Homo sapiens: one gene and its partner. Changing the gene in region 2 together with the main gene of any one other region gives a genetic interaction. Each region holds a gene or a part of one and is shown on either strand. Other genes may lie near its edges. The genes, in order: ACACA and UBA1.

What was found.
Region 1: changes in UBA1 (region 2) and ACACA together harm fitness less than expected from each alone (positive genetic interaction), as found in Homo sapiens cells (one large-scale study listed by BioGRID).

What each region holds. Positions count from the first base shown.
Region 1 is NC_000017.11:37,242,597-37,246,408, forward strand, and holds part of ACACA (acetyl-CoA carboxylase 1), read right to left. Parts: intron 2,619-3,812; coding exon 2,484-2,618; intron 2,380-2,483; exon of another isoform or gene 2,205-2,379; intron 2,139-2,204; coding exon 1,992-2,138; intron 964-1,991; coding exon 775-963; intron 1-774. UniProt on the Homo sapiens protein: Cytosolic enzyme that catalyzes the carboxylation of acetyl-CoA to malonyl-CoA, the first and rate-limiting step of de novo fatty acid biosynthesis.
Region 2 is NC_000023.11:47,200,329-47,204,140, forward strand, and holds part of UBA1 (ubiquitin-like modifier-activating enzyme 1), read left to right. Parts: intron 1-565; coding exon 566-672; intron 673-947; coding exon 948-1,038; intron 1,039-1,149; coding exon 1,150-1,282; intron 1,283-1,827; coding exon 1,828-1,925; intron 1,926-2,029; coding exon 2,030-2,176; intron 2,177-2,309; coding exon 2,310-2,486; intron 2,487-2,614; coding exon 2,615-2,719; intron 2,720-2,805; coding exon 2,806-2,886; intron 2,887-3,212; coding exon 3,213-3,368; intron 3,369-3,812. UniProt on the Homo sapiens protein: Catalyzes the first step in ubiquitin conjugation to mark cellular proteins for degradation through the ubiquitin-proteasome system.

The DNA of each region.
Region 1 (3,812 bases), on a different chromosome or scaffold from region 2:
GGTGCACATCTGTAGTCCCAGCTACCTGGGAGACTGAGGTGGGATGAGCCATTGGGCCTATGGGGTCAAGGCTACAGCGAGCCATGACCGCACCACTGCACTCCAGCCTTGGCGACAGAGCAAGACCCTGTCTCAAAAATAAATAAATAAATAAATAAACAGCTGGGCACGGTGGCTCACGCCTGTAATCCCAGCACTTTGGGAGGCCGAGGTGGGCGGATCACGAGGTCAGGAGATCGAGACCATCCTGGCCAACATGGTGAAACCCGTGACTACTAAAAATGCAAAAATTAGCTGGCATGGCAGCGTGTGAATGTAATCCCAGCTACTCAGGAGGCTGAGGCAGGAGAATTGCTTGAACTCGGGAGGCAGGGGTTGCAGTGAGCCGAGATCAGCCACTGCACTCCAGCCTGGTGACAGAGCTAGACTCCATCTCTAAATCAATGAGTGAATGAATGAATCAATCAATCAACTAATATCACTCTATTTTCAATTCATGAAAATACCTCTAATTAGGGAATAGCCCCAGGAACAAAGCTATAAGGTATACATGATCCAAGTGTGCTTTTCTCATAACTACAGATACTTATCCTTCACATACAGTACTTTCACTGTTGGGTTTGTACCCTGAGGCAGTTTTGTGAGGAATACAATGCTTAAAAGTATACAAGCACAACATCCAAAAAGTAAGGAGGATCCAAATAGGAAGGAATCCTACAACATAAACTCTGGCATTGGTAGCCAGAAAAAAATATAGTGTTATCCTATAAATACCTGCTGGCTGGGAAACTGACAGAGGACTGATGTGATGTTGCTAGCATACTGAGCCATTTCCTTCTTGATAGACTTCTCCACATTGGGGGGAATGCGGCCAGACACACTGGTCATAATATCTTGCAATTCTAGGAGAGGCAGGGAGGGATCTCTGAGGGTTTTCATCAATCGCTCTACCCAGTCTTTTACCTAGAAAGAAAGCATTGGTAAAATAGGACCCAAGTTAACACAATCCCCCAAATAAAAAGATATATAGTTGTCATTCTGTATACGTGGGAAATTGGTTCCAGAACCACCACTCATATATGAAAATCTGCACATACTTGAGCCCTACGGAACCCATGTATAGAAATAGTTGTGGGTTCCATATCTCATCAATACTGTAATTTTGATCCATGTTTGGCTGAAAAAATCCACATATAAGTGGACCCACACAGTTCAAACCTGTATTGTTCAAGAGTCAACTATATCTGAATTCACTATCATATACTACTTCTTTTCAATAAAAATTTATATAATTTTCAATAGATATGGGGTCTTGCTATGTTGATCAGGCTGGTCTCAAACTCCTGGCCTCAAGCGATCTTTCCATCTCAGCTTCCCAAAGTGGTGAGATTACAGGCGTGAGCCAACTATCATAGAGTACTTTGAAATTGCAACGTAAGCATCTAACATTGCCCCTATTCTCCAGTTTAAAAAGGACTAATCACGGGCGGGCACAGTGGCTCACGCCTATAATCCCAGCACTTTGGGAGGCCGAGGCGGGCAGATCACAAAGTCAGGAGTTCAAGACCAGTCTGGCCAACGTGGTGAAACCCCACCTCTACTAAAAAAAAAAAAAAAAAATTAGCCGCGCCTGGTGGCACGTGCCTACAATCCCCACTACTCAGGAGGTTGAGGCAGGAGAATCACTTGAACCCAGGAGGTGGAGGTTGCAGTCAGCTGAGTTTGTGCCATTGCACTCCAGCCTGGGCAACAGAGCAAGACTCCGTCTCGAGGAAAAAAAAAAAGGAGTAATCACAATTAAATGTGAAGTCCATGACAAGGATAAGAAACATGGATTTAAAGACCTCAAGTCCCACAACTGAAGGTGAAAGAGTTCTAGGCCAAACAGCTTTCTTTTCCTCCCTCTTAAACAATCATTATGAGACTTGGAACTATTTTGGAGAATAGGTATCCCATTTGTACATCCCTTCCCCAGGAGACGTGATACATACCTTGCTGCTAAAGAAAGGATCTGGAAGGCAGTATCCATTCATTACATTGACCAGATTATCCAGGACATAATGGAACACTCGATGGAGTTTCTCGCCTCTGAGTGCCGTGCTCTGGATCCGTGGCAGACTACCTGTGTGAAGTTCAGCCTGTCAACCCCAACAAGAGATCAAGTCATCTACTACTTTTGATCTAAGGTACAAACACACCACTGCACTTAAGAGTTATCATTCAAAATCGAGACATCATACCCAGCTACCAGGAGGGAAGTCAATAGAGGAAACATCATAAGGAAATTACAGAATCTTAGTACTACAGTAACTCTTGCAAACTCTAGTTCCATAATACTACAGGCACAAATACAAGGCATAAGATTAATAGGGGACAAAGCTAAAGAAAACACTGGCAAACCAAGCATTGAAATCACTTGCCTCTCCAAACCACCAAGTTCTTTAGCTCTTAGAGAGCAATATTCGGAGCACCTTCCTACTCACCTGCTGAACCTTGCTGGGGTTGTCCAGTTGCATTTTGGCTAGTACACAGCCAGGGTCAAGAGCTGCTCCAGGTCGCTTGACGTAATGGATACAGCCAGACTCCACAGCTGTTAAGGTCATTACCATCTTCATTACCTATAGTGAAAAATAAACTAGACTCAGATTTATCTCTCTTTACACAGATGAGTGCTTAAAAGAACTAAAATTTTTCCCTTAGCATCTAAGTTGGACCACACCTAATTTGACCAAGAAAAAATGGGAATTTACCATCATCTCCTAGGGACTATCAAGGCAAGCAATTAGAAAATCTCTCAGTACCTCACTTTAGGAATTAATAACAGTTATTGACATTTCTCCTTTCTAACTTTTACAACCATTTTGGCATAATTTGTGATTATATTTGTTTTGTACTTAGAAAGTAAGGAACAATTTAATATCCTCATACCAGTGAATCCAATCTAAGACAACCAGGCCAAAACCTAAGGATCATTCTTCACTCCTCTTTCTCCCTTACCTACCAATTACCAACCCAGCCAGACATATCTTCTAAACCTTTCTCAAAAATCTTCCTCTCTTGCCAACTCTTCGGTTTACGCCTTCTTCATTTCTGGCCCAAAGTACTTCAAAGACCCCCTAAGAGATCTCCCTACTTGCTACATACCTCCCTCAAGGTCACGAAAAGCAATCTTCCTAGACCCCAAATCTCATCATACTACTTTTCCACTTAAATCTTTCAGAGATTACCTGCTGCCTCCAGGATAGTGAAAACTTACTAGTATGGTTTATAAGATCCTTCATAACCTCACATTCAAGATCTCACATTACTTCTTTAGCACCTTTGCTTGTCCCTCCCCATTAAACCTTAGTCTATTCTCAAGCCACACCAACACATACTTGCAGTTCCCTAAATACACTGTGCTGTCTTGCTTCTGTCTTTGTACATGCTATTCCTTCAACTTTAAGCACTCTTCCCTGCCCTTCTTCACCTGCTCTATCACTATCTGTCTTTCAAAACTAAGATCAAATGTCTCTTCTTTCAGAATATCTTCCCATACAAGCTTAGCTTGATTTGGGTTAGGTGACCCTCTGCACTCTATGCTTAGCTCTCTTAAAATTAATCACATGACATTTCTTGTCTGTTTTGTGCCCCACCTCCATGTATTTTCTCTGGATAGCCAGCAGTTAGGACACCTAACATTCAACAAGTGCTATTGCCTAGTATCTATTTTTAGAACTAGAGATTCCTCATTTGCCTATGTGTTTTAAAAATCTTAAGGTTCGCACTTCTAATTAAGCCAACTGATGTTTCTTTTTCATTCTTATTTCCAA
Region 2 (3,812 bases):
TGGATGGGTGTTTGTTAATTAAAAAGTCCAGGCCGGAAAGAGGTGCTCTGGAAGCTGAGAGTTGTCCCTGGAGTATCCCAGGTTGCCAGGGCACTGCAGCTAAATCCTGATGGAGGAGTAGGAGCTCACCCTGGTGGGGAAGGATGGACATTCAGGCAGAGAGCAAAATCCCAAAGATCATGGCGGAGCAGGCGTCGTCTTGAGAATTGGAAGCAGGTGGGTGTGGTAGGAGTGAGCTCAGACTTTGGCTGGAGACAGAGTTTTACTCCAGTGTCTCACAGGGCATGGCAGACAGACAGCAGCGGGTGTTTGTCAAATAAATGAGTCAGCTCTTCTCCAAACTCCCTCCTCCCAGCTACCTCTTCACCTTTCCTGGTATAGTCCAGGGGTTCATTTTCGACCCCCACAGAGTCTGATACACAGTAGGTGCTATGTGTTTGTGAAAGAGGCTGACCCAGCAAAGCCTGGATGTGTTTGCCTTGAGGACTGCCTGAGTCCTCCACACCAGCCCTCCATTTTTTCCCCTTCACCCCAATGCTGGGCCTGAGCCTCCATCTCTCCACAGGTGGTGGTGCTCACCAACACCCCCCTGGAGGACCAGCTGCGAGTGGGTGAGTTCTGTCACAACCGTGGCATCAAGCTGGTGGTGGCAGACACGCGGGGCCTGTTTGGGTGAGTGGCAGCCCACCTCCCTCCCTGTCCCCTTTTCCCCCAACTCCTACCAAGCCCAGGCCAAGACTCTAGGCTCTCCCTGCCCTCATCCCTTCTCAGCTACCCAGGTTTTGGGTTCTGTGTTTTCATCTCTCCCCATGTGGCACAAGTACCATCTTACATCCCAGCAGTGATAGGCTGAGTTTGCTCAGCAAGTTTTCACTACATCTTGAGGGACCCGTGGGACCTGTATGTGCATGGGACACAGGCACCAGCCCTATTGCTTCCCTCTACAGGCAGCTCTTCTGTGACTTTGGAGAGGAAATGATCCTCACAGATTCCAATGGGGAGCAGCCACTCAGTGCTATGGTTTCTATGGTTACCAAGGTAAGGAGACCAGCCCTAGGGTTCCTGGCAGGCAGGTGGGCTGCAGTAGTCCTTCCTGTCTGCTCTTGGTACCCTGGGCCTGTTTCTGAGACTCACTCTTCCTTTAACCAGGACAACCCCGGTGTGGTTACCTGCCTGGATGAGGCCCGACACGGGTTTGAGAGCGGGGACTTTGTCTCCTTTTCAGAAGTACAGGGCATGGTTGAACTCAACGGAAATCAGCCCATGGAGATCAAAGTCCTGGGTGAGCTGCGACCATGGGGGAAGCAGAGGGGAACTAGAAGATATGTTCCTGGGTTCTGGCCGGGGAGTTGAAGGGAGAAGACATGGCCCTTGGTTCAGAGTTGGGAAGACACATCCTGGTGTTTGAGATGAACTACAGACAATCCTGTGGGGTCCAATAAGAGCTGGTGGGCATGGGGGAGAGGTACTGTGTTTGAGCTATTCCTGGGAGAATGTGTCCCTGGTATCTGAGCTGAGTGGGGAAAAAGTCTCTGGTGTTTGAACAGGGCAGATCAGCGGATCTACTTGTGTGTGAGCTGATTTGGATGGGAAGCAGAGAAGGTCTTCCCGTGTAGACTTGGAGCCAGGGACACAGGGTCTCACGGGGTCTGAGCTGAGTCTGGGGCACAGGAGAGATGGTTTCTGATGTCCAAGTGGAGCCTGGAGCTGAGGGAAGACAGCTTCTGATGTCTGAGCTGAGTCGGGGCAGGAGGTTCCTTATCTTGCAGGGGTTGTGGATTTTAGGGAGAATGGGTAGACTGACAGCTCTCTTCCTGCCCTCTGTAGGTCCTTATACCTTTAGCATCTGTGACACCTCCAACTTCTCCGACTACATCCGTGGAGGCATCGTCAGTCAGGTCAAAGTACCTAAGAAGATTAGCTTTGTGAGTGTGTCGATGGGATCAGTGGGCTGTGGGGGGTGGTTCTAGGCATTCCCTAGTTCTCCATTCCTCTCTTCTGGTTCTGATGACCTCTCCCCCCGCCACAGAAATCCTTGGTGGCCTCACTGGCAGAACCTGACTTTGTGGTGACGGACTTCGCCAAGTTTTCTCGCCCTGCCCAGCTGCACATTGGCTTCCAGGCCCTGCACCAGTTCTGTGCTCAGCATGGCCGGCCACCTCGGCCCCGCAATGAGGTGGGTGAGTGGGCGAGCCAGCCAGCGCAGACATGCCTGGCACTGCAGGCTCACCATGCCTCTCTGCGTGTCCACACTCCCTGCCCTCACTGTGGCCTGACATATCCTCTCTTGGTTCTTTCTGGCCCACCAGGAGGATGCAGCAGAACTGGTAGCCTTAGCACAGGCTGTGAATGCTCGAGCCCTGCCAGCAGTGCAGCAAAATAACCTGGACGAGGACCTCATCCGGAAGCTGGCATATGTGGCTGCTGGGGATCTGGCACCCATAAACGCCTTCATTGGGGGCCTGGCTGCCCAGGAAGTCATGAAGGTCAGCACGGGTGGGGAGAGGCAGGATTGGGGTGGGCCAGGTTCCTCCATGACTCTGTCACTTGCTCTCTGTCTGTGTCAGGCCCCTGTTAACCACTGACCACCCCCTCTCTCCCTTCCCCTCTCCAGGCCTGCTCCGGGAAGTTCATGCCCATCATGCAGTGGCTATACTTTGATGCCCTTGAGTGTCTCCCTGAGGACAAAGAGGTCCTCACAGAGGACAAGTGCCTCCAGGTATGTGGGTGGGACCTGTGGGGAGGGCATCATTGGGGACATTTCTGGGGAGGCCTCTCTAACCCTCCTCCCTTTGCATTCCTTAGCGCCAGAACCGTTATGACGGGCAAGTGGCTGTGTTTGGCTCAGACCTGCAAGAGAAGCTGGGCAAGCAGAAGTATTTCCTGGTAAGTGGTCCCCTTGGATGTCTGCTCCCCTCATCTTGGCCTCTGGCCATCACCCCTGGGGCTTCCTTCGGCATCTCAATGCAACCGGTGGCGCATTCTCTTTGCCATTCTCCTTATCTTGAAGGGAAGCCCAGTGCATCCCTCGTTTCCCCTTCTGGTGCCTCCTTCCTCACATGACTGCGTGTCATTTCTTAGAGTCCTGCAACCTGAAGATGTGGTGTTAGCCCCTCTCCCCGTCTCTCAGGGGAGTGAGGGGTGATGGGTAGCTTCACACTAACCTGCATCACCCTGACCAGCCTCTGCCTGTCTTCTTGGTTGCTTCTTAGGTGGGTGCGGGGGCCATTGGCTGTGAGCTGCTCAAGAACTTTGCCATGATTGGGCTGGGCTGCGGGGAGGGTGGAGAAATCATCGTTACAGACATGGACACCATTGAGAAGTCAAATCTGAATCGACAGTTTCTTTTCCGGCCCTGGGATGTCACGGTGAGTAGGGTAGGAGGTTGGGGCTTTGTCGTCTCACTTTCCTCCTTTTTCTTTTTTTTTTTTTTTTTGAGACGGAGTTTCGCTCTTGTTGCCCAGGCTGTAGTGCAGTGGCGTGATCTCTGGCCCACCACAACCTCTGCCTCCTGGGTTCAAGCGATTCTCCTGCCTCAGCCTCCTGAGTAGCTGGGACTACAGGCATGCGCCACCACGCCCGGCTGATTTTGCATTTTAAGTAGAGACAGGGTTTCTCCATGTTGGTCAGGCTGGTCTCGAATTCCCGACCTCAGGTGATCTGCCTGCTTCAGCCTCCCAAAGTGTTGGTATTACAGGCGTGAGCCACCACACCTCACCCCTCCTTTTTCTTGTTCCCATTCTTTCTGTCAGAGATCTTTCTGCCTCTGCCAGAAGCCCTTCTTTTTGGCCTTTCTTTCCCTCAGCTTCTGT